5 separate regions of the Homo sapiens genome follow, and regions 1, 2, 3 and 5 are each linked to region 4. The links come from fine-mapping of genetic effects on gene expression. A gene starts in region 4. Each other region holds a variant in brackets. All regions are shown on one strand. Distances are from middle to middle. Region 1 overlaps NDUFA6-DT (NDUFA6 divergent transcript). Region 2 overlaps MEI1 (meiotic double-stranded break formation protein 1). Region 3 overlaps PMM1 (phosphomannomutase 1). Region 4 holds the start of NAGA (alpha-N-acetylgalactosaminidase). Region 5 overlaps TCF20 (transcription factor 20).

Evidence for each region.
Region 1: its variant is fine-mapped to the expression of NAGA in whole blood (TOPMed, PIP above 0.99).
Region 2: its variant is fine-mapped to the expression of NAGA in whole blood (INTERVAL, PIP 0.98).
Region 3: its variant is fine-mapped to the expression of NAGA in whole blood (INTERVAL, PIP 0.93).
Region 5: its variant is fine-mapped to the expression of NAGA in whole blood (INTERVAL, PIP above 0.99).

What each region holds. Positions count from the first base shown.
Region 1 is chr22:42,101,167-42,106,269 of GRCh38, forward strand. The region is part of intron 3 of NDUFA6-DT (NDUFA6 divergent transcript); the gene reads left to right. Among named protein-coding and RNA genes, the nearest start is that of NDUFA6-DT, 13 kb to the left of the region's middle. The variant C/T (reference allele first, on the strand shown) is at 3,020.
Region 2 is chr22:41,721,400-41,726,502 of GRCh38, forward strand. MEI1 (meiotic double-stranded break formation protein 1) reads left to right here. Exons shown (of 31, transcript NM_152513.4): 7 at 2,544-2,674. It also overlaps the pseudogene RNU6ATAC22P. Among named protein-coding and RNA genes, the nearest start is that of MEI1, 24 kb to the left of the region's middle. The variant G/A (reference allele first, on the strand shown) is at 2,993.
Region 3 is chr22:41,584,687-41,589,789 of GRCh38, forward strand. It overlaps PMM1 (phosphomannomutase 1), which reads right to left. Exons shown (of 8, transcript NM_002676.3): 1 at 5,033-5,103; 2 at 1,390-1,507. Among named protein-coding and RNA genes, the nearest start is that of PMM1, 2.6 kb to the right of the region's middle. RefSeq lists an enhancer at 4,279-4,958. The variant TAA/T (reference allele first, on the strand shown) is at 2,276.
Region 4 is chr22:42,068,354-42,073,437 of GRCh38, forward strand. NAGA (alpha-N-acetylgalactosaminidase) reads right to left here and starts at 2,459. Exons shown (of 9, transcript NM_000262.3): 1 at 1,929-2,459; 2 at 86-221. The coding sequence starts at 1,944. RefSeq lists enhancers at 1-364, 2,720-2,769 and a silencer at 2,240-2,539.
Region 5 is chr22:42,234,336-42,239,438 of GRCh38, forward strand. The region is part of intron 1 of TCF20 (transcription factor 20); the gene reads right to left. Among named protein-coding and RNA genes, the nearest start is that of TCF20, 34 kb to the right of the region's middle. The variant T/G (reference allele first, on the strand shown) is at 2,406.

The DNA of each region.
Region 1 (5,103 bases), 33 kb after region 4:
CAAAGCATTTAGTATTTTACCATTGAGTATGTTGCTAGCTGTAGGTTTTTCGTAGATACCCCTCATCGGATTGAAAATGTTTCCATGAATTCCTCGTTTGCTGGGAATTTTCTTTTCTTTGAGGTTCAGATGTTGATTTTGTGAAATATATTTTATGCATCTATTGATATAATCATGGAATTTTTCTTTTTCTGTCTGTTAATATGGTTAATTTCATTTATTGGTTTTTGAATGTTGAACCAACCTTGCATTCCTGGGAGTAAATGCTATAGATAATGTTGTATATATTTACATATTATTTTCAATGTGATAAGATTTTGTTAATATTTGCATCTGTGTTTATGAGGATGTTAATCTGTATCATCTTTACCTGTTTTTTTTTTGTTGTTTGTTTGTTTTTGAGATGGAGTCTTGGTCTGTTGCCCAGGCTAGAGTGCAGTGGCGTGATCTTGGCTCACTGCAACCTCTGCCTCCTGGGTTCAAGTGATTTCCCTGCCTGAGCCTCCCGAGTAGCTGGCAGTACAGGTGCTTGCCACCATGCCCAGCTAAATTTTGTATTTTTAGTAGAGATGGGGTTTCATCGTGTTGGTCAGGCTGGACTCGAACTCCTGAACTCAAGTGATCCGCCTGCCTCAGCCTCCCAAAGTGCTGGGATTACAGGTGTGAGCCACTGTGCCTGGCCCATTAAGGTGCATATGTATTTAGGATTGTGATATTTTCCTGTTGGACTGATTTTTTTTTTTTTTTTGAGACAGAGTCTCGCTCTGTCTGCCCAGCCTGGAGTGCAGTGGCGTGATCTCAGCTCTCATCTCACTGCAAGCTCCGCCTCCTGGATTGATGCCATTCTCCTGCCTCAGCCTCCCGAGTAGCTGGGACTACAGGTGCCCACCACCACACCCGGCTAATTTTTTTGTATTTTTAGTAGAGACGGGGTTTCACCATGTTAGCCAGGATGGTCTTGATCTCCTGACCTCGTAATCCGCCCGTCTCAGCCTCCCAAAGTGCTGGGATTCCAGGTGTGAGCCACTGCGCCCGGCTGGACTGATCTTTTATCGTTATGTAATGTCCCTTTTTGTCTTTTTTTTTTTTTTTTTTTTTTTTTGAGACAGAGTCTCACTCTGTTGCCCAGGCTGGAGTGCAGTGGCGCAATCTCGGTTCACTGCAAGCTCCACCTCCCGGCTTCACACCATTCTCCTGCCTCAGCCTCCAGAGTAGCTGGGACTACAGGCACCCACCACCATGCCCAGCTCATTTTTTTGTATTTTTTTAGTAGAGACGGGGTTTCACCATGTTAGCCAGGATGGTCTCGATCTCCTGACCTCATGATCCACCCGCCTTGGCCTCCCGAAGTGCTGGGTTTACAGGTGTGAGCTACCACGCCTGGCCCCTTTTTGTCTTTTTTTTAACCGTTGTTGCTTTAAAGTCTGTTTGTGTGATATAGGAATAGCTACTCGGCAAGGCATGATGGCTCATGCCTGTAATCCCAGCACTTTGGGAGGCTGAGACAGGTGGATCACGAGGTCAGGAGATTGAGATCATCTTTGCCACCATTGTGAAACCCCATCTCTACTAAAAATACAAAAATTAGCTTGGTGTGGTGGCATGCCCCTGTAGTCCCAGCTACTCGGGAGGCTGAGGCAGGAGAATTGCTTGAACTCAGGAGGCAGAGGTTGCAGTGAGCCAAGTTAGCGCCACTGCATTCCAGCCTGGTGACAGAGCAAGACTTAGTCTCAGAAAAAAAAACAAAAACAAAAAAACATAGCTACTCTTGGCCAGCTCACATCTATTATCCTAGCACTTTGGGAGGCCAAGGCAGGCAGATCATGAGGTCAGGAGATTGAGACCATCCTGGCTAACATGGTGAAACCCTGTCTCTACTAAAAATACAAAAAATTTAGCTGGGCATGGTGGCGCATGCCTGTAGTCCCAACTACTTGGGAGGCTGAGGCAGGAGAATTGTTTGAACCCAGGAGGCAGAGGTTGCAGTGAGCCGAGATCGTGCCACTGCACTCCAGCCTGGGCAACAGAGCGAGACTCCATCTCAAAGAAAAAAAAAAAAGAATAGCTACTCGTACTTGCTTTTGGTTTCCATTTGCGTGCAGTATCTTTTTCTACCCCTTTACCTTAAGTTTATGTGAGTCCCTATGCATTAGATGAGTCTCTTGAAGACAGCAGATGGTTGGTTGGTGAATTTTATCCATTCTGTGTCTTTTAAGTGGAGCATTCAGGCCATTTACATTCAATGTTGGTATTGAATTATGAGATAGTGTTTTATTCATAGTGATAGTTGTGCTTTTTTAAATTGTGTTATTGTTTTATAAGCCTTTTAAAACATATACTTAAAGGAGGTTCTATTTTTGTTTCAAGATTTAGAACTCCTTTTGACATTTCTTGTAGTGCTGGCTTGCTAGTGGCAAATTCTCTCAGCATTTGTTTGTCTGAAAAAGACTTTATCTCTCCTCATTTATGAAGCATAGTTTTGCTGGATACAAAATTCTTGGCTGGCAATTATTTTGTTTGAGGAGGCTAAAGATAGGACCCCAATCCCTTCTGGCTTATAGGGTTTCTGCTGAGAAATCTGCTGTTAATCTGATAGGATTTCCATTGTAGGTTCCCTGATGCTTTTGCCTCATGGCTCTTAAGATGTTTCCCTTCATCTTGACTTTAGATAACCTGATGACTGTGTGCCTAGGTAATTATCTTTTTGCAATGAATTTTTCAGGTGTTCTTTCAGCTTCTTGTATTTAGATGTTTAGATCTCTGGTGAGAGCAAGGAACTTTTCCTTGATTATTCCCTCCAATAAGCTTTCTAAATGTTTAGATTTCTCTTCTTCCTGAGGAACACCAATTATTCTTAGGTCTGGCTGTTTAACGTAATCCCAAATTTCTTGGAAGCTTTGTTCATTTTTAAAAATTCATATTCGCCGGGCGCAGTGGCTCACGCCTGTAATCCCAGCACTTTGGGAGGCCGAGGCAGGCAGATCACAAGGTCAGGAGATCGAGACCATCCTGGCTAACA[C/T]GGTGAAACCCCATCTCTACTAAAAATACAAAAAATAAGCCAGGTGTGGTGGCGGTCGCCTGTAGTCCCAGCTACTCAGGAGGCTGAGGTAGGAGAATGCTATGAACCCAGGAGACAGAGCTTGCAGTGAGCCGAGATCACGCCACTGCACTCCATCCAGCCTGGGCAACAGAGCGAGACTGTCTCAAAAAAAAAAAATTCTTTTTTATTTGTCTTTGTCTGGTTGAGTTACTTCAAATGCTTTGTCTTCAAGCTCTGAAGTTCTTTCTTCTACTTGTTGGAGATAAATGTTCAGTGCCACAAAGCGAAACCAGCACTCAGGCAAAAATTTTCTCAGCAAGGCAATTTACTTCTGCAGAAGGGTGCTGCTTGTGTCAATCACGATTGCAAGAGCACACTGAACAAAGGAAAGCAGGGGTTTTTATTCCTAATGCAGTCCCTGCCTCTTTGTCATTCCTCCATGGGCTGTGGTTGGACCGCACAATCTAAACTGACCCAATTGGCTATTTGTGAATACTTTCCCAAATAAGGAAGGGAAGGGAAATGTGAGTTACAATGGTGGGATGTGCGGTTTCAAAGGGAGGAACGGGTGAAGAGTGGGTAACCAAGGGAACAGATGTGAGTTATTGATTAGGACTGACAGGAAAGTTGTTTACAGTTACAGTAACTAGGGGCAAGGAGGCATAGAGAACAAGAAAGTTGAGTTTGAGAACAAAGAACAAGGAAGTTAACAGGCTAAACCTTTGAAGAATTTTATTGTATCCTACAATTTCCCCCTTTTAATTTTTATAGTTCTTCCTCTTCAAACCTTTTTAAGATGTCTTGGCTTTGCTGTTTGACTTGATCGTCTGAAAGGAAACGCTTATCTGAATAAGGTGGAGGAGAGCTAAGGGAGATTTTAGTAAGTGCTGTTTCTATAAGCCTTTGTACTAGCCCATGGTTGCATGGTGTGACACAACACCCAACAAGAATGAGTACACCTATTATGACTGCAAGAGAAGTAAGAATTGAGGCTATGATTCCTTTCTATTTACCAAACCACCTGTCTAGCCATCCTGAAGAAGGGTTATTGACTCCAGAATTTTTAGCTAATTCATTAGATAAAATGGTAAGTCCTTGTAAGGCTTTTGTTATGCTCCCATCTGGGGCAGTATGGTTTGGGATGAAGGTACGACACTGAGTTTTAATCATAACACAAACTCTACCTTTTTCAGCTAGTATCATGCCTAGGGCCATTCTGTTTTCCTAAGCCATCTGGCTAGTCAGCCCTAACTCCTCAGCTATTCCTTTGACAGCATCCCTGGTATAATTAATAAACTGCTGTTGGTTATAATAGATGTAATTTATACAGTCTACATTTTTATTAATAGTTACCCATGGAAATATTGATTCAAATCCTGCAGACTATTTGGTCCCGGGCTTTTAATTTATCAGGTACTCCCCATGGGACTCCAGTTGCATCTAAATAAACTTGAGAGTCAAAAAACCTATAAGGGGCTTCTCTTATTTTATGGTGTTGTGGCTTTTCTTTTTCTGGCTGATGAAACGCCAGGGTGAAAGGGATAGCCAAATGGACAAGAGTGCAGGTACCACTCCAGTTACTTGGCAGAGTGTCCAGTAAGGGTCCGCCACAATACCACCATACATCTTCTTGAGGATGACTAAGGGCAGACTGATGGGTAAGCTCTTGGAAAGGCTTAAGCTCACTGCATCCTGTTAAGCTTCCAAGGAACACCAAGTTTTCCCCTTGTCGTGAGAGACAGGACGTGAAATTGACATTGGGAGCCAGAAGCTGGATGGCCCTCTGGGGCTGACCCGCAGGATATTGAACTTTGGGATAGAGCAAAGAGAGAGCTTGGCATGATTGATTGCCCCAAGCTATGGAATCCTGGAAGAGAGCTACCATGCTGCCCATGCCTGGTTGACTGGGGGACCAGCCGAGTGTAAAGGGGTCTATCTGGGTCTCTGGCTGGCCGTGAGCACAAGCATAACAATTGCTTTTGTTTCATGTGCGGACAGAATATTTGGTCCATTCCAACCAGGCATTTGCATCTTGATATTTTGTTTCAATTGCTAAAGTTTGC
Region 2 (5,103 bases), 350 kb before region 4:
ACATCTGGCTATTTTTTTGTATTTTTAGTAGAGACGGGGTTTCACCGTGTTAGCCAGGACAGTCTCCATCTCCTGACCTCGTGATTCGCCTGCCTTGGCCTCCCAAAGTGCTGGGATTACAGGTATGAGTCACCGTGCCCAGCCCGTGCCTGGCTAATTAAAAAATTTTTTTTTGTAGAGTCTGGGTCTCATTATATTGCCCAGGCTGGTCTTGAACTGCTGGGCTCAAGAGATCCACGTGCCTTGGACTTCCGAAGTGCTGGGATTACAGGCATGAACCACCACACCCAGCCAGAATTCCCGTTTTTAAATGCTACCCCTTTTTTTTTTTTTTTTTTTTGAGATGGAGTCTCGCTCTTTCACCATGCTGGAGTGCAGTCGCACGATCTCAGCTCACTGCAACCTCTGCCTCCCGGGTTCAAGTGATTCTCCTGCCACAGCCTCCCGAGTAGCTGGGACTACAGGCGCGTGCTACCATGCCCGACTAATTTTTGTATTTTTAGTAGAGACGGGGTTTCACCGTGTTGGCCAGGATGGTGTCAATCTCTTGACCTCGTGATCTGCCTGCCTCGGCCTCCCAAAGTGTTGGGATTACAGGCGTGAGCCACCGCGGCCAGCCTCTTTTTTTTTTTTTTTAAATAATAAAAAAAATTAACCCTATGCATGTTTGTCAGACCCGAGGGCCTCTTTTATCCTGGTCAACGGGAGTGCTAACCTTCTTTCAGACAACACTTAAAGGTCACCTCTTCTCTGGAGCCTTTCCTTCCCACCCTCTCCCCTCAGCCAGGGATGTAGTCACATCCTTTGGACCCTTGAAGCACCAAGGGTCTTATATTCTGTCTTATGTCATCTTATTCACTTACTTTACAACCCAAGATCCTCATAAGTTCTTATTTTATTTAATTTACTTATTTTTAAAGATGGGACCTGTTCTATTGCCCAGGCTGAAGTACAGTAGCATGTTCATAGCTCACTGCAGCCTCGAACTCCTGGCCTCAAGTGATCCTCTCACCTTGATCTCCCAAGTAGCTGGTATTACAGGTGCACGCCACCTTGCCAGCATTTTAATTTTTTTTTTTTTTTTTTTTTGTAGAGATGGGGTCCCACTATGCTCATAAGCTGTTTATGGTCTAATCCTTATTAACCTCTCAAGCCTCATCTCTCACTTCTCTATCTGTCCCCACCCTAACTCAGCCTTACTGAACCAAATCCATCTCCAGGAACACACCATACTCTCCTGCCTTTATATATTCCTCTGCCCAGAAGTTGGCTCACATCCAACTTCTCATCCTTCAAGATTTGGTTCAAATATCTTCTTATAGAAGCCTTCCCTGGGCCCCCAGGCTAGATTAGATGATTCATTTGATTTCCTGCGGTCCTCTGGGCTTTTTTCCACATTATTTAATTTTAATATTTAATATTCTGACATGCATTTCTTTACTTGTTTGTTAAAGTATGTATTATTTGGAACACTTTGGTGACTTACCATGAATCCCAGCATAAGTACCAGAATCCTTAACATAGCTTATGTGGTCTTTTGTGACTACTTCTCAAATGTAATTTCTGGACTTTTTTTTCCCCCAGCCATTCTGGCTTTCTTTCACTTTCTAGAATGTTGTTCTCTGTATCTGGAATACTTCTCCCCACTTCACCTACTTTTACGTACTTATTTTTCAGATTCAGCTTAAATGGTACTTGCTGATGGAAGGCTTTACTGATCCCCCACACTGGGTTAAATCCTCATATACATTTTCATGTATTTGGGTATTTCTCATTTACATCATTTATCACAATTATAAGGGTCATTTGTCTGACTTGGTTTTTTTTTTTTGAGATGGAGTTTCACTCTGTCACCCAGGGTGGAGTACAGTGACGCCATCTCAGTTCACTGCAACCTGTGTCTGCTGGGTTCAAGCGATTCTCCTGCCTCAACCTCCTGAGTAGTTGGGACTACAGGCACATGCCTCCATGCCAGGCTACTTTTTGTATTTTTTTACTAGAGAGGGGGTTTCACCATGTTGGCCAGGCTGGTCTTGAACTCCTGACCTCAAGTGATACACCCACCTTGGCCTCCCAAAGTGCTGGGATTACAGGTGTGAGCCACCACGCCTGGTCTTGTCTTACTTGTTTTTGTGTTTGTTTCTCCTACAGGAGTGTATGCTCCCTTTGTTAGTCAAAAAATATTTTTTGAGTTCCTGCTATGTGTCAGGAACTGTGCCAGGTGATGGATGATGTTATGTTGAAAAAACTCACATTATTCCTGCCCTCATGAAACTTATAGTTGAGTGAGGCAGTCGGGCTATGTTTATCTTGCTTACTCTTGAATCCCTAGACCCTTAGGCCTAGCACTTAGTGGGCTCTCACTAGATCTGTGTGGAAGAGAGTCGGGTGCAAAAAGCAAATTGGTGCTTAAGGATTCTAACCATTCTTCATATTTGTAGAGGGATGAAGAAGTTTCTCTGGGGATGTCTGAGGGGCTATCTTGGGAGTACTCTGGTGCCTGTGTTCCTCTTGCCTTACTTCCCAATCCCTTTGTTTCCTAGGTTTGCTGAGGCAGCTGTTGAAGTATGATCTCTTTGTGTCCATGATCATGAACCAGGATGGACTGGGAGAAAGTGCTAAGAATATCGAAGGGTCATCAGGAAATACCTCACTGCCTTTGGTGCTCAAAAAGGTAGTTGTCTTGTGATTCCTGGTCTCTAGGTTCAATAACAAGGGGACCCAAGTGCTTCTTGGGCCTTGTCTTCATCTACCACTCCTATCTCAGATTTCCAAGTGTTTTCTTACTGGGCAAAATAATATACTGGCTGGGGGCGGTGGCTCATGTCTGTAGTCCCAGCACTTTCGGAGGCCTAGGTTGGTGGATTGCTTGAGCCCAGGAGTGCAAGACCAGCTTGGGCAATATGGCAAAACCCTGTCTCTATAAAAAATACAAAAAAGTTGGGCGTGGTGGCTCACGCCTGTAATCCCAGCGTTTTGGGAGGCCAAGGCT[G/A]GCGGATCATGAGGTCAAGAGATTGAGACCATCCTGGCCAGCACAGTGAAACCCCATCTCTACTAAAAATACAAACATTAGCTGGGCGTGGTGGCACACACCTGTAGTCCCAGCTACTCGGGATGCTGAGGCAGGAGAATGCCTTGAATCTGGGAGGCGGAGGTTGCAGTGAGCCAAGACCGCGCCACTGCACTCCAGCCTGGTGACAGAACGAGACTCTGTCTCAAAAAAAAAAAAAAAAAAATTAGCTGGGCGTGGGCGTGGTGGTATGCACCTGTAATCCCAGCTACTCAGGAGGCTGAGGTGGGAGGATTGCTCGAACCCAGGAGGCGGAGGTTGCATTGAGCCATGATCATGCCACTACACTCCAGCCTGGGTGATAGAAAGTAGATTTCCTTTCATTTGTAAATTCTTTTTTTTTTTTTTTAAGTGCCGAGGTCTTGCTCTCTCCACTCAGGCTGGAATGTAGTGGCACAATCACGGCTCACTGCAGCCTCAACCTCCTGGGCTCAAGCGATCCTCTTGTCTCAGCTTCCTGAGTAGCTGAGACTACAGGTGTTCACCATGAGGCATGGCTAATTTTTAACTTTTCGTAGAGACAGGGATCTTTCTATGTTGCTTGGGCTGGTCTCAACTCCTGGGCTCAAGTGATTCTCCCACCTTGGCCTCCAAAGTGCTGGGATTACAGGTGTGAGCCACTGCACCTAGCCTCAGTTGTAAATTATTATTATTTTTTTTTTGAGATGTAGTCTCGCTGTTGCCCAGGCTGGTGTGCAGTGGCGTGATCTTGGCTCACTACAACCTCCGCCCCCCAGGCTCAAGCAATTCTCCTGCCTCAGCCTCCTGAGTAGTTGGGATTACAGGCGCCAAGCCACCATGCCCGGCTAATTTTTTGCATTTTTAGAAGAGACGGGGCTTCACCATGCTGGCCAGGCTGGTCTCAAACTGCTGACCTTGTGATCCGCCTGCCTCGGCCTCCCAAAATGCTGGGATTACAGGCATGAGCCCCCAGGCCCAGCCGTAAATTCTTACCTCTGCACTTCCCCTTCACATTTGGGCTGCCTGAAAATGGAGAATACTTACAGCAATAGAAACAAAGTCACCTCAGTTGCTTTAGGGATCAGATTCTGAGCTTGGTACTGAGAACCTTCTTTATCTGGATATCCTTCAGCCTCACTTTCCTGTCTCTTCCACCCCACAACCCAGTGCTCCAGCCACATGCAGTCTTTCCCTGGTCCTGCATATGCTAGGTCATCCTGTCTCACTGCCTGTGCAGTTGCTCTTCCTCTGCCTATAGGGCATTTCTCCTCTCTTTATCTGCTGATATGAGTCAGCCTTCAAGCCTATAGGGCTCCCCTGTCACCCTGGCTCCTTTAGGCGGAATGTGACCCACTGTCACCGTGCTTACCTCATACCATATTGTGGTTGACTGGCTGGGAGCTCTTTCAGGGCAAAACCTGAGTCTGGCATCTTTCCCCAGTGCTCGGCACGGGGGCTGGCAGAGCTGCAAACCCTGATGTGATAGCAGGGGTTGATTGCCCAAACTCTGGGGCTCTTTCTGCAGCAAGGAAGAGGAGGAGGAGCTCTGGTTAGAAGTGAGAAGGGAGGCCGGGTGCAGTGGCTCATGCCTGTAATCCCAGCACTTTGGGAGACCGGGACGGGTGGATCACGAGGTCAGGAGTTCGAGACCAGCCTGGTCAACATGGTGAAACTCTATCTCTACTAAAAATACAAAAATTAGCCAGGCGTGGTGGCACACACCTGTAATCCCAGCTATTTGGGAGGCTGAGGCAGGAGAATATAGCAAGAAAAGTTTGTCCTGAGACTACAGCAAGAAAAGAAAAGAACTGACTTCTAAAGAAAATAGTTTAGTCCATTTCAGAGTTTAAATGTCGGTCATCAAGTGTAATGAGCTAGGATCAGGTTTCTGACTTAGGAATCATACACGTATTCCATAAGTTTTAGTGTAGTTTTAAGCTTAAAACTTAACTTAAAAGCAGTAACTTAAAAGCAGTTACTGTTGCCATTTTCAAACATATGTACTTAAACAACAACAGGGAAACTAAAAATGTGTTATCAAATCACAAAACTGAAGTGTAATGAAATTTAAC
Region 3 (5,103 bases), 480 kb before region 4:
CCTACACCCTTGGTTTCACATTCAAAGGCCATTTGTTCAATCTGAGGCTACAACCTGCTTCTCCAGCCTTTCTCCCTCTGCAGCTTGGTTTTCTTCCAAAGAAGCCAGTCACACCTGTGGGCCTCTGCACACAGGCATCCATGCAGGTCCTTCTGTCAGAACCGCCCTTCCCTGGCTTCCCTGCCACTCATCCTCCAAGATTCAGCTTCCTCCTCTGGAAGCCATGCAGTACTCTCTGGCAGAGGGCATCATTTCCACTCTGTGCTCCCCTGCCCCTCTGCAGAGGGGCTCCCTTCTGTTCTATAGCTGCCATCGCACTGGGTTCTCAAGGCTGGCTGCATGGGAGAGTTGGAGGTTTCAGCTCTGACTGCCAGGCGAAGCAGTTGGAGTGGGTGGGAGGTGGGAGGCACAGGGAGCACAGCCCAGAGGCTGTTGCGGGGTCTGGGTGGCACGTGGTTACCTGGACTATGATGGCGTGGTGGAGATGGAGACAGAGGGGACAGGGAGATATTTTGGGGTTTGCTGATGGAATAAACAAGAGGTGGGGAAAAGGAAAAATTCGAGGAAGTTTCTGGCTTGAGGAACTGGAGGCACCCACTTTGACTGGGCTGAGACCAGGGGCTCTGAGGTCCAGTCGATTTCCTGGATAACTTCAGAGTCATCCTCTGTTAAATGGGATGATCACGCCTACTCTAAAGTGTGATTGTGGGGATCAAATGCAATGACATTAACACATGATCATTTTTGACAAATGGTAGCCATCATTGGTTCTGCCCTTTTATTTATTTATTTATTTATTTATTTATTTATTTATTTATTTTTGGATGTGTAGCCTCACTCTGTCACCCAGGCTGGAGTGCAGTGGCCTGATCTTGGCTCACTGCAACCTCCGCCTCCCAGGTTCAAGCGATTCTCCTGCCTCAGCCTCCCGAGTAGCTGGGATTACAGGCACGTGCCAACACACCCAGCTAATTTTTTGTATTTTTAGTAGAGACGGGGTTTCACCATGTTGGCCAGGCTGGTCTTGAACTCCTCATCTCAAGTGATCCATCCGCCTCGGCCTCCCAAAGTGCTGGGATTACAGGCGTAAGCCACTGTGCCGGCTGGTTCAGCCCATTTTAAAGATGAGGAAATCAAGACTCAGCAGGGAGAAATGAGAATGTAAACTGCATAAGGGCAGGTTCTGCTTGCTTTGCCCCAGCCATTTCTCAAGGGCCTGGCACAATCCCTGGCAATAGGAAGTGCTCAAGTGTTTGTCAAATCAGTAAGGGAACTATCTGGCTGCTCTCTCTCTATTTCTTCTGCCCCACAGAAGCAGGACTGGATCTTTGAAGACGCCCAGGAATCTCTCAAACTCCCCACTCCCTCTACCCCCAGCCTCACTCCTACCTTCATCCCCGTCACCCAGCTGCTCAGCGATCTTACAGTAGTCAGAGCCGCCCACCACACCGATCTGCACTCTACTTCGTAGCTTCTGCAGGAAGGCGGCCACCTCAGGGTCAATTTTCTATGGGGGGAGAGGGGAAGCATAGCATTCTGGCTTTCAACATGTCTGGGACCTCCACTTAGCCCTCACTTAGTGCTGAGAACCCAGGAAGCCCACATTCTACCTGGATCTGAAGCAGTACAAAGCTTAGACACCAAAAATTAGACAGGTTGGACACTGTGGCTCAGGTCTGCAATCCCAACACTTTGCGAGGCCAAGGCAGAAAGATCACTTGACCCAGGAGTTTGAGACTAGAGCCTAGGCAGCAAAGGAAGACATTGTCTCTATGAAAAAAAAAATTTTTTTGGAGACGAATTTTTGTTCTGTCATCCAGGCTGGAGTGCAGTGGTGTGATTCTGGCTCACTGAAACCTCTGCCCAGGCTGGAGTGCGATGGCGTGATCTCAGCTCACTGCAACCTCTGCCTCCCGGGTTCAAGCGATTCTTCTGCCTCAGCCTCCCGAGTAGCTGGGATTACAGGCGCCTGCCACCATGCCCAGCTAAGTTTTAAATTTTTAGTAGAGACAGGGTTTCGCCATGTTGGCCAGGCTGGTCTTGAACTCCTGACTTCAGGTGATCCATCCGCCTGGGCCTCCCAAAGTGCTGGGATTATAGGCGTGAGCCACCGTGCCTGGCCGAAAGTTTTTAAAAATTAGCCAGGCATGGGCTGGCACGGTGGTTCACACCAGTAATCCCAGCACTTTGGGAGGCCCAGGAGGGTGGATCACTTGATGTCAGGAGTTCGAGACCAGCCTGGCCAACATGGTGAAACTCTGTTTCTACTAAAAAT[TAA/T]AAAAAAAAAAAAAAAAAAATTGGCCATGCGCGGTGGCTCACGCCTGTAATCCCAGCACTTTGGGAGGCCGAGGCGGGTGGATCACAAGGTCAGGGGATTGAGACCATCCTGGCTAACATGGTGAAACCCTGTCTCTACTAAAAAATACAAAAAAATTAGCCGGGCGTGGTGGCACGCGCCTGTAGTCCCAGCTACTCGGGAGGGCTGAGGCAGGAGAATGGCGTGAACTTGGGAGGCAGAGCTTGCAGTGAGCTGAGATCACGCCACTGCACTCCAGCCTGGGCGACAGAGCGAGACTCCGTCTCAAAAAAAAAAAGAAAAAAAAATTAGCTGGGCGTGGTGGCAAGCGCCTGTAATCCCAGCTACTCAGGAGGCTGAGGCAGGAGAATCCCTTGAACCCGGGAGGTGGAGGTTGCAGTGAACCGAGATCATGCCATCGCACTCCAGCCTGGGGGACAAGAATGAGATTTCATCTCCAAAAAAAAAAAAAAAAAAAGATATTAGCCAGGCATGGTGGCACTTGCCTGTAGTCCCAGCTACCAGCTACTCCAGAAGCTGAGGCGGGAGAATCACTTGAGCCCAGGAGTTCGAGGCTGCAGTGAGCTGTGATAGCGCCACTGCACTCCAGACTGAGTGACAGAGTGAGACCCCGGTCTCTAACAACAACAACAACAAAATAGCATCACAATCAAGTTGATTTTTGAGGAGCCAAAGAACAATAACAAAAATAGCCTCACAAAACAATGCTTAATATTTGCTCTGGGCAAATAGATCCAGATAAAGGCCTGGAGGGAAGCCACACCACAGTAACCACATTAACTTGGGGAGCCGGCCAGGCTCCCCAAGTGCGGTCAGAGTGGACTTTACCCTTCTCTGTTACGTTTCCATTCTTTACCAGGAGAGTGTGCTCATGAAAATGTGTACGATTAAAAATTAACTTTCAAAAGGCACTAAGCACAGAGGCTGGCCCGTAGACAAATTAATAGGCTGTTCTTATTCAGGTTGTTATGTTTGTGGAGCAAAAGGTCAGAGGGAGGAGTCAGAACTGTGCCTAGGCCCTGCCACTTTTGTTCCAGTTCTTTTATTCATTTATTTGTTTGTTTGAGACGGAGTTTCACTCTTGTTGCCCAGGCTGGAGTGCAATGGCACAATCTTGGCTCACTGCAACCTCCACCTCCTGGGTTCAATCGATTCTCCTGCCTCTGCCTCCCCAGTAGCTGGGACTACAGGCACACGACACCACGCCCATCTACTTTTTGTTTTGTTTTGTTTTGAGACTGAGTCTCCCTCTGTCGCCCAGGCTGTAGTGCAATGGCACATTCTCGGCTCACTGCAACTTCTGCCTCTCGGGTTCAAGTGATTCTCCTGCCTCAGCCTCCCGACTAGCTAGGATTACAGGTGCATGCCACCACGCCTGGCTAATTTTTTGTATTTTTAGTAGAGATAGGGTTTCACGATATTGGTCAGGCTGGTCTTAAACTCCTGACATCGTGATCTGTCTGCCTCGGCCTCCCAAAGTGCTGGGATTACAGGCGTGAGCCACTGAACCCAGCCTAATTTTTGTATTTTTAGTAGAGACGGGGTTTCACCATGTTAGCCAGACTGATCTAGAATTCCTGACCTCAGGTGATCTGCCCACCATGGCCTCCCAAAGTGCTGGGATTACAGGCGTGACCCACAAGCAAATGGCCCACCTTTGCTCCAGTCCTGCTATCTTCCTCCCGGATCCACCCCTGCAGGAAGGCCTCCAGGGCCCAAGCCAGGGCAACTTCACCACAGAGGATGGGGAGGGGCATTCGGGACCTAAGAGAGGAGGCTAAGACCTGGGTTCCCATCAGCCACTGCCCAGTAAAGCCCATCCCACTGCTCCCCCACGCTAGGAGACCTGTTGGTTGGTCCTTGAGGCCCCCAGACTGGAGGGTGGGTTACCCACAGGGAGGGCATGAATGAAGCCTGCTTACTGATGCATCCAGCTGGTGAGGGGGCTTTTGGGGACTCACTCACAATGAGACCCAATGGGAGAAAAACTGAGCAGAGGTAAGAGGCTCAACACAGCGAGAGTCTTTAGAAGAAAACTAGACTCTTACCCTCACTATTCCTCAGTGTCCTCACAGCAAACAGGCTAGGCCTGGAGCCTCTCACATCCGGGTGGGTAGAGCTCATAAACGAATTTGAAAAGAAGCCCTCTCTGCTCCACGACTGGGGGTGGAAGGTAAAGTGGGTGATGGGGCTTCAGAAACTAGACCCAGTCCCAGGCCTGCAAAGGTCGGGGTGGGAAGACTCCGAGACGCCCTGTCTCCCACCAGATGATGACTGACGCTTGGCTGTGTGCTTGTGTGCCTGGAACCCCGGTTCAGAAGCCAGCTCCGACCACTGGTGTGTCGTAGGGCTGAACTAGGGTGGGATCCCCAGCTCAGGAGGCGGGGGCGTCCGTGAGCCAGGCCTTAGCGGCGTGTGACAGCCTCCGGGGAGGGAGGGAGCTAGGCCCCTGCTCGCAGCCTCCTCCCTCCAGTACTGGATCCAACCCCAGCACTCCCAAGCAGAACACAGGCAAGGACGCTGCGGGGTCAGTGACGTGAGGGCCAGGTCCCCTCACTCCCGGTGGGTGGCCCCGGATGTCAGGGGGCCGGGTACCGCCGCATCCCACACTCGGTCCCCGGGTGTCCACGGTCACGCTGCTGCAGACCCCACACTCAGCCTCGGGGGTGTCCGCGTGACACTCCCGGTGGGAGCTTCCAATCTTCAGGGTCCTACCTGGCGAGCCGGCGTGAGGGTCCCGTCCACGTCAAACAGGCAGAGGACGCGCTCCTTCCTGCGGGCTGCCT
Region 4 (5,084 bases):
CTTTTCTAGTGGACTCTCCACTTCCTGCCCCCGAATCTGCAGGGCCCTGGGCAAGGCTCATCAGGTGAGTGTGGACCTTACTCACCTTATGCAGTTCTTTGGGTCCTCATCACAGTTAATGTTGCAGCGGAAGCGTTCCCAGGCCAGCCAGCCCATGGGTGGTGTCTGCAGGAGCCCATTGTCCAGCATCAGCACCTGGGCCACATGTCCCAGCAAGAGCACTAGGGGGCAAGGGAGGAGGGGATGGTGACTATCAGTTGCCCCCACAGCTCCAGCCCTCATCCCACCCCATCTGTATGTTGCTCAGCCCTACAGAGGCTGCCTGCCTATATATAAGGGAAACTGGACTCCTGGGTTTAGGGTAGAATTGGCTCTTCCTGCAATGGCTGGCTCTTGCAAAGCAGTAAGTGGGAGGATGGTGCCTGGGCCAGGCAGTGGCTTGAGGTCTGGCCGTCACCACAGCATTGCTGGAATTAGCAAAACTAACACCTTATGTCCTAACCTTCCTATAACCCCCATCAGCTCCTCCCATCCCATATATAGAACTTAACAGTACAGATGCTCCTAGGCCTACCACGGAACTACGTTCTCATAAGCCCAGTGTAAGTTGAAAATATCACATCAGCCAGATGCAGTGGCTCATGCCTGTAATCCCAACGCTCTGGAAGGCCGAGGCGAGTGGATCACTTGAGGTCAGGCCAACATGGTGAAACCTTGTCTCTACTAAAAATTCAAAAACTTAGCCAGGCGTGGTGGCATGCGCTGTACTCGGGAGGCTGAGGCAAGAGGATCACTTGAACCCCAGAGGCGGAGGCTGCAGTGAGCTGAGATCGTGCCACTGAACTCTAGCCTGGGCTGTGACAGTGCGAGACCCCATCCCAAAATAATAAAAAAGAAAATATTATGTCAAAAATGTACTTAATACACCTAACCTGGCAAACATCATAGCTGAGCCTAGCCTACCTTAAAAATGTGGACAGGCCAGGCACGGTGGCTCACTCCTGTAATTCCAGCACTTTGGGAGGCCGAGGTGGGCGGATCACCGTAAGTCAGGGGTTCAAGACCAGCTTGGGCAATATGGTGAAACCCTGTCTCTACTAAAACTACAAAAAAATACCGGGGTGAGGTGGTGAGTGCCTGTAATCCCAGCTACTTAGGAGGCTGAGCAGGAGACTTGCTTGAACCTGGGAGATGGAGGTTGCAGTGAGCCGAGATCGCGCCACTCTACTCCACTCCAGCCTGGGTGACAGAGTGAGACTCCGTCTCAAAAAAAAAAAAAAAAAAAAAGTGCGACAACGCACATTAGCCTACAGCTGGCCAAAATCATCTAACACAAAGCCTATTTTATAATAAATTGTTGAATATTTCATGCAATTTACTGAATACTGAAACACAGGTTGTATACGTACTGTGGTTTCTACTGAATGTGCGTCGCTTTCACACCACAGTAAAGTTGAAAAATCGTTAAGTCGGGACCATTGGCCAGACTCCAGGTCTCCTGAGCCCCAGTCCAGAGCTCTTTGCTCTCTACCACAGACCCTCAAGAGGCCTCAGAGAGGCTTAAGAAGTAAGCCAGCCAGGATGGGCACCCAATCAGCTCACCTAAGTGAGACCTTTCCCCCTCGGGCCTCAGTTTCCTTATCTGTAATATGGAGTTACTGTAGGGACTGTACAGGCGGTTCTCCGCACATGCTGATATCCATCAGTTAGGGCCTCTGTGCTTGAGGGAGAGGAAGTGAGAAAGGAAGGGCCCCTTTGAAGGAGAAATGATTCCCGTATGGGGAAGCATCTCCTCCCTTCCTGCCCAGCTCTAAGTAAAAGAGAGAGGAACCTGTCTCTCCACATACCCACATTAGGGAAGAAGGGCCAAAGCACTCCTTGTAGCACTCACCCCTACCCTTCCAAGCCACCCCAGCCGGTGTAGGTACCTGTCTTCAGCAGCATCGCTCTGGACTCAGCTTCCGAGGACCTGACCAGATCTGGTCTGCGTGTATCAGCTGTATGTGTTGGGCTCTGGAAGCTAAGAAACGTCTGAAAAGCACTGGGGTCACGGCTGCCTGGCTAGCTCGGCCGCCCTCAACCTTAGGCGTGGATCGTACACTCGGTCCCCAAGTTGCCCGCCCCATCCCCAGCCATCACTTCCCGGAGCTTCAGTTCTTCCTTCAGAAATACGAAACAACGTGTCTTGGATGTCAGACCTCACACCCTCTGCAGTGCTGGGAGTCCCGAGGGCCTACGGGCCGCCTTCGGCCCCGCCCGGGCTCAGAAAAAGGCAGCCACTGGCTTAAGGTCACCAAGAAAGAGCGGAGGGGCGGGGCTGCGGCCAGGCTCCGGACTTCCAGCCGGGTCCGGGTTCCCGCCCTGGGCTCCCCAAAACCGCAGAGCCCCCTCCCACCGCACTTATCCTACCGAAGCGTTCAGACCTGCCGCCGCTTCTGACTCGAATCCGGTAACCTGATAAGTCCGAAGCGTTCCAGTGAGGGCGGGGCCTCACGAAGGCAACCCTTCGCGCAACCTATCAGAATCCCCCCTAGCAACGCTGTGCCCCGCCCATATGGGTCCGGCCTCCCAGCCTCCCTAAGCCCTTCCCCACTGGGCTCCCGCCCTGCGTGCTAGCGAGGCAGGCATTGGCAGAACGGACTCGGGGCTGTCCTTCGTGGCCCGGACCCCGCGAGGCCTGTCCTTCCACCTCTGTGGGGACCAAGAGGGCAAGGATCGTGCCAGGCTCACCGTGGGCGCTCAGTAAGCGGCCGTGCAGAGGACGGTTGAGGGCTTTGTGCAGAGGAAATGAGAGACTGCTCTGAAGCAAGGCCCGCCTAGTGAGCTGCTAGGAAAATGGAAGTCTGGGATTAATCGTCTCTACAAGGAGGGTGCGTGGGAGGCACCAAAGCAGGCGGTCACAGCTCCCGCAAAGGCAGCCGGCTCTCCTTCCCCGCCTGACGCTCAGGGACTACTCGCACAGACTGGGCTACTTCCTTCTTCATTCATTCATCAAGTATTTATTGAGAAACTGCTAAGTGCCAAATGCTTTGTTCTGGGCATTGTAGGGGCAGAAAGGTGTGATATTTTCCCTTACTCATCCCAAAGGTCACAGCGGACACTCCTACAAATAAAATATAGGTTAGCAAGAGAAAAGCATAATAGATTGATTTACTCAATGTTTTATGTGACTTGAGAGCCTTCAGGAATGAAGACACAAATACTCAGGGAAATCTTTATTTTTATGTCTCGGTTTGATGAAGAATGGACAGCCCTGGCCGGGTCTGGTGGCTCATGCCTGTAATCCCAGCACTTTGGAAGGCTGAGGCAGGGGGATCGCTTGAGGCCAGACATTTAAGGACAGTCTGGGCAACATAGTGAGACCCTGTCTCTACAAAAAATTAAAAAGCCAGGCAGGTGCCTGTGGTCCCAGCTACTCGGGAGGCTGAGGTGGGAGGATTGCTTGAGTCCAGGAGGTCGAGGTTGCAGTGAGCTGTGATTGTGTCACTGTACTCCAGCCCGGGCAACAGAAAAAAAAAAAAAGGAATAAGGAATGGACAACTGTGTATAAACGCGATTAGACAAAAGGGAATGATTTAATGTTAATAGCTGAGTGTGGAAACCCAGCAATGTCTGTTCAGATTCGGATTCTTCTTGTTCTCTCTGTGTGGCATTCCCTCCTGCTGGGAGGAGGGCAGGACCCCTTCTGGAATGAGAGTCTTATGACCTAGTATCAGGCAAGGTAGATCAGAGAATTCCTTTATGGCCAGGCCCGACACAGAAAGGTGGGGGATGTTTCCAGTAATATTTGTAGTTACTTTTTTTTCTTTTTTTTTTTCTTTTGAGACAGAGTCTCCCTCTGTCACCAGGCTGGAGTGCAGTGGCGCGATCTCTGCTCACTGCAACCTCCGCCGCCCAGGTTCAAGCGATTCTCCTGCCTCAGCCTCCCAAGTAGTTGGGACTACAGGCGCACGCCACCATGCCCAGCTAATTTTTGTATTTTTAGTAGAGATGGGGTTTCACCATGTTGGCCAGGATGGTCTTGATCTCTTGACCTCGTGATCCGCCCACCTCAGCCTCCCAAAGTGCTGGGATTACAGGCATGAGCCACTGTGCCCAGCCAATATTTGTAGTTGCTATAACTCACCTTAGGGAGGAGGATTTTTAGTTTCTATGGCCTGCCTTGCAGGAGAAAAACAGGAGAAAGAAGGGGGGCAGGAGAAGGTCAGAGAGATACTTTGCTTCTGAGGCTCTTCCAGTGTCCTTTGGTTCAAAGTACTCAGCATGCCCAAGTGCCATATTTTTAGGCATCGCTTTCTGAGCCCCAACAGCACCTTCACTCAGATGGCCACTGGGTGTCTCAAACATAACCCAGACCAAGCACCGGCCACTTTCCACATCTCAGATAATGACAACTCTCCTAGGTGCTCAAGCCAAAACTGTGCAGTCCTGCCTGCTCTTTCCCTCACTCCCCACATCCAACTCCTCAGCAAATCCTGTGTTCTCTACCTTCAACAGCCATTCTAATTCTGGCTGCCTCTCCCTCCCCGCTCTTGCCGCGTTTGTGACATCTCGCCTGGATAGTGGCAGCAGGCTCCTCACTGGTCTCCAGCCTCCACTGACATTGATTCTCACCACAGAAGCCAGAGTATGCCTTGAAATCGCTCAGGTCCCTCCTCACAGCCCTGTCTAGAGTAACAGCCCTCCCAGATTTACAGAGCCCCATCCCACCCCTTCTACCCCCACCTCCTACTGTCTGCCCCTCCCCAGGCCTCCCAGCCTCACTGGCCTTCTTGCAGGTCCTCAAGCACAACAGGCCTGAGGGCCACTGCGCTGACTGTTCCCTCTGCCTGGAATTGGCATGGCTGGCTCCCTCATTTCCTTCAAGTATTTGTCCAATGTTACTTTCTCAGTGAGGCCTACCCTGACCACTCTATTTGCAATTGCAACCTCCCTACTCCCACAATTTCCCATCTCCCTTACCCTCCTCTGTTTTTCCATGCCACTTATTATCTTCTAACACATTTATTATGGTGTACAGTATTAACTGAATAAAATTTAGTAGGGGAGACAGGCAATAAACAAGAAAATAAAAGCATGAGCAT
Region 5 (5,103 bases), 170 kb after region 4:
TCAAATGAAGCAAAAAGCAGAACCGAGTTCTATGGGTTTAGTCCCCTCCAGATAAAAGCCAATGAACCTTTTTACAGTTTATGGGGTCCTCTCCATATGGCTGGGGATGCAGGCATGGGAGGAATATTGTCTGGACGATTAATTCCTGTGAAATGAACACAGGAGTTAGGAGGAGCGGAGGTGAGTCAACACACTCTACACTTCCACGGTTGCCTCAAACTCACCACAATTCCAAAATACCAAGAAACAATGTGCTAGTTCTTGCTTTTTTTAAGTGTCCATAAGCTAAAAGTCCTTCTGAAGATTGAGCGTCCCACTTAAAAGCCCAAACCAAAAAATAGTTTGCAGGATTATTTCAAATATATTAAAAACATCAAAATGCTAACTCCAAACTAAGGTGAAATAGTTACATCTAAGTATCCAAGAAGAGCATCAAGAATTAGCAAATTAATTTAGGGTCAGAAAACCTAATAATTAGGGTCAGAAGAACAAAAAGATCATTTCGGTAGCATAAGAACTTTGTGCCGGGTGCAGTGGCTCACGCCTGTAAATCCCAGAACTTTTGGAGGGCAGGGCAGGCGGATCACGAGGTCAGGAGTTCAAGACAAGCCTGGCCAACATGGTGAAACCCCACCTCTACTAAAAAAAATACAAGAATTAGCCAGGCATAGTGGCGCATGCCTGTAGTCCCACATACTCGGGAGGCTGAGGCAGGAGAATTGCTTGAGCCCAGGAGACAGAAGTTGCAGTGAGCCGAGATCGTGCCACTGCACTCCAGTCTGGCCAACAGAATGAGACTCTGTCTCAAAAAAAAAAAAAAAAAGAACTTTGTAAATGTCTGTCGCTCTAGACCTTATTTTAGGGTGCAAGCCATAACTATGATAAGGAGGGTGCCATGTATAAATGTAACAGACACTGAGACAAAAGAAAACTACTCCTGACAGCAGTTTGCTGTCTTTCCCAAGAGATTTGAGGAACAGTAACCATAAAACTTTCCTCCTCCCTTCTCAACTGGGGACTTCTCTGATGTAATATCAGGGAGAAGAACAAGGGAACATTGGGTATCAACTGGTGCACACCATCTCTCTCCTGAAGTGACAGAAAGAACATTGAGTAGTACTATCTTACCTAGAGTCAAACTAAATGACTTGAACAAAGAGACCAAGAAAAACATGTTTAGAAAATCATCTAGAAATAGGATTTTATTTTAGTAAGCGAAGTGAACAAAAAATACAATTTTATTTGTACATACAATTGCTTCCACTATTAAATTTGTTTTCTATTGATTCTTCTGGGTCATCTGTTGGAAAAAGTACTACATTTAGAATTAAGAAATCTAAATACTTCCTAGTCTTGCCACTTGTTCTGTGACTTGGGCAAGTTATTTAACCCATATGTCTCACATTCTTCACCTGCAAAAGTGGAGTTAACCTACCTTGCCACCACACGGGAATGTCCCACAGTAAGTCTGCAAACAGCTAAGTACCATATAAATCAAAATTATCACTGTTAGAATTACCACCCTCTTTCCCTCTCTCAGGTAAAAACTTGAACCAATAATAAAATAAGTAAAAGACACCAGACATGGTGGCTCACGCCTATAATCCCAGCACTTTGGGAGGCCGAGGCAGGCAGATCACTTGAGGTCAGGAGTTCAAGATCAGCCTGGCCAACATGGTGAAACCCTGTCTCTACCAAAAATACAAAAATTAGCTGGGCATGGTGGCAGGCACCTGTAATCCGAGAATCACTTGCTTGTACACCCAGGAAGCAGAGGTTGCAGTGAGCCGAGATCTCACCACTGCACACTCCAGCCTGGGTGACAGTGAGATTCCACTTCAAAAAAACAAACAAAAACAAAAACAAAAAAACAAGTAAAAGACAACAAGGAAAAAAATGGAAAAGAGGTTATCAAACAAACAAAATAAACCCTAAAAAACACAATAAATAACTACTGATTGGTGTAACAGCACTCTGTGACAGGTAATTTTTGTCATTCTCGAGTTAGGAAAGATCCCACACCCTGGGATCTACAGTCCATTCATAGAAATCACAGCAGGGTTAAATCCTCATCAATCCTCTAATTCACAATGAAGAATGCCGACGGAGCGCATTCTTAATCTATATGGCAAGAACTACAAGCCACAGGACCAATCCCCACCCTCCCCACAGAGGGACAGTGGCCTGACAGTTGGAGCTCTACTTGGAGGCAGATGGCCTCTAAAGTGCAAGAGTTTTCCCTTCTTCCCTGACCACTGGCATGCAATTAGCAAACACCCTAACCCCAGTCATTCTGAAATAAGCCAATGGAGAGTCACCTGCAATCCTAAATTTTGAAAATAAAAAAGTCAAAGAGACACAAACATTCTATGAAAAATCAGCCACAAGCATAACATTGCAGGTAT[T/G]GTGGGTCTGGTTCCAGACCGTGGCAATAAAGCGAGTCACACAAATTTTCTGGTTTTCCAGCACATATTAACTTTTATATGTGTACGCTATACTTCAGTCTACTAAGTGTGAAATGGTATTATGTCTAAAAGACAATGTTCATACCTTAATTTAAAAAATACTTTATCGTTAAAAAATGCTAACAATCATCTGAGCCTTCAGGGAGTCCTAATCTTTTTGCTGACGGAGGGTCTTGCCTCCATGTTGATGGCTGCTGACTAATTAGGGTGGTGGTTGCTGAAGGCTGAGGTGGCTGTGGCAAATTTCTTCAAATAACACACCCATGAAGTCTGACGCATCGACTGGCTCTTCCTTTTCTAAGAGATTTTTCTATAGCATGCCAAACTGTTTGATAGCATTTTACCCACAGTGGAACTTCTTTCAAAACTGCAGTCAGTTCTCTTCAACCCCGCCACTGCTTAATCAACTACGTTTATGTAATATTCTAAATCTTTCATTGGCATTTCAACAATGTTCACAGCATCTTCATCAGGAGTAGATTCCATCTCAATAAATCACTTTCTTTGCTCATCCATAAGCAGCAACTCCTCATCTGTTCAAGTTTTATCATGAGATTACAGCAATCCAGTCACATCTCCAGGCTCCACTTTTAATTCGAGTTCTCTTGCTATTTCTACCACATCTGCAGTTCCTGCCTCCACTGAAGTCCTGAACCCCTCAAAGTCATCCATGAGGGCTGGAATCATCTTCCAAACTCCTGTTCATGTACTGACCTCCTCCCATGAATCACAAATGTTCTTAATGGCATTTAGAATGGTAAATCCTTTCCGAAAGGTTTTCAATTCACTCTGCCCAGACCCACTAGAGGAATTATTATGTATAGCAGCTAGAGCCTTATGAAACATATTTCTTAAATAAGACTTGAAAATCAAAATGATTCCTTGATCCAGGGGCTGCAGAATAGATGTTGTGTTAGCAAGCATGAAAACAACATTTATCTCCTTATACATTTCCATCAGAGCTCTTAGGTGACCAGGTATACTGTCAAGAAGTAATATTCTGAAAGAAATCTTTTGAGTAGTAGGTCTCAACAGTGGCCTTAAAATATTCATTAAACCATTCTGTAAACAGATGTGCTGTCATCTAGGTTTTGTTGATCCACTGACAGAGCACAGGCAGAGTAGATTTAGCATAAATTTATGGGCCCTAGAATTATTAGAATGGTAAATGAGCACTGGCATCAACCTAAATTCACCAGCTACACCAGCTCCTAATAACAGTCAGCCTGTCTTTTGAAGCCAGGCACTGACTTCTCCTAATTATGGAAGTCCTAGATGGCATCTTTTCTGACATAAGGCTACACTGAATATCTGTTCAATATAGCCACCTTCATCAGTGATCTTGGCTACATCTTCTAGATAACTTGCTGCAGCTTCTACATTAGCACTTGCTTCAACTTGCATTTTAATGTTACAGAGATGGTTTCAAGAACTTTAGGAACCAATCTGTGCTAGCTTCAAACTTCACTTCTGCAGCTTCTTACTTTTTTCAGCCTTCACAGAAGTGAAAAGAGAAAGTCTTGCTCTGGGATTAGGCTCTGGCTTAAGGGAATGTTGCGGCTGGTTGATTTTCCATCTGAGTCACTAAAACTTTTCCATATCAGCAATAAGCTGTTTCGTTTTCTTCTCATTCATGTGTTCACTGGAGTTGTACTTTTAACTTTCTTCAAGAACCTTTTCTTGCATTCATAACTTGGCCACGTTTGGTGCAATAGGCCTAGTATTCAGCCTATCTTGGCTTTTGACATGCCTTCCTCACTAAACCATCATTTCTAGCTTCTGATTTAAAAGTGAGAGATGTGCAATTCTTCCTGTCACTTGAACATTTAATGGTCATGATCAGGTTATTAACTGACCTAACTTCAATACTGTTGTGTCTGAGGTAACAGAGAGACCTGAGGAGGTGGTGAGATGGGGGGACACCCAGTTGGCAGCAGTCTGAACACACATCTATACACAACATGTATATATTAAGTTCGCCGTCTTATATGGGAGTGCTTTGTGGCGCTCCAAAACAATTACAAAAGTAACATCAGGCCGGGCGCGGTGGCTCACGCCTGTAATCCCAGCACTTTGGGAGGCCGAGGTGGGTGGATCATGAGGTCAGGAGATTGAGACCAACCTGGCTAACACGGTGAAACCCTGTCTCTACTAAAAATACAAAAAAATTAGCCAGGTGTGATGGCGGGCACCTGTAGTCCCAGCTACTCGGGAGGCTGACGCAGGAGAATGGCGTGAACGCGGCAGGCAGAGCTTGCAGTGAGCCGAAATCGCACCACTGCACTCCAGCCTGGGCGACAGAGCGAGACTCCATCTCAAAAAAGAAAAAAAAAAGTAACATCGATGATCACTGATCACAGATCTTCATGACAGATAACAATTTTAAAAGTTTAAGGCTGGGCGCGGTGGCTCATGCCTGTAATCCCAGCACTTTGGGAGGCCGAAGCGGGTGGATCATCTGAGAACAGGAGTTCGAGACCAGCCTAGCCAATACGGAGAAACCCCGTCTCTACTAAAAATACAAAATTAGCAGGGCGTGATGGCGCATGCCTGTAATCCCAGCTACTCGGGAGGCTAAGGCAGGAGAATCACTTGAACCCCGGAGGCGGAGATTGCAGTGAGCCAAAATCACGCCATT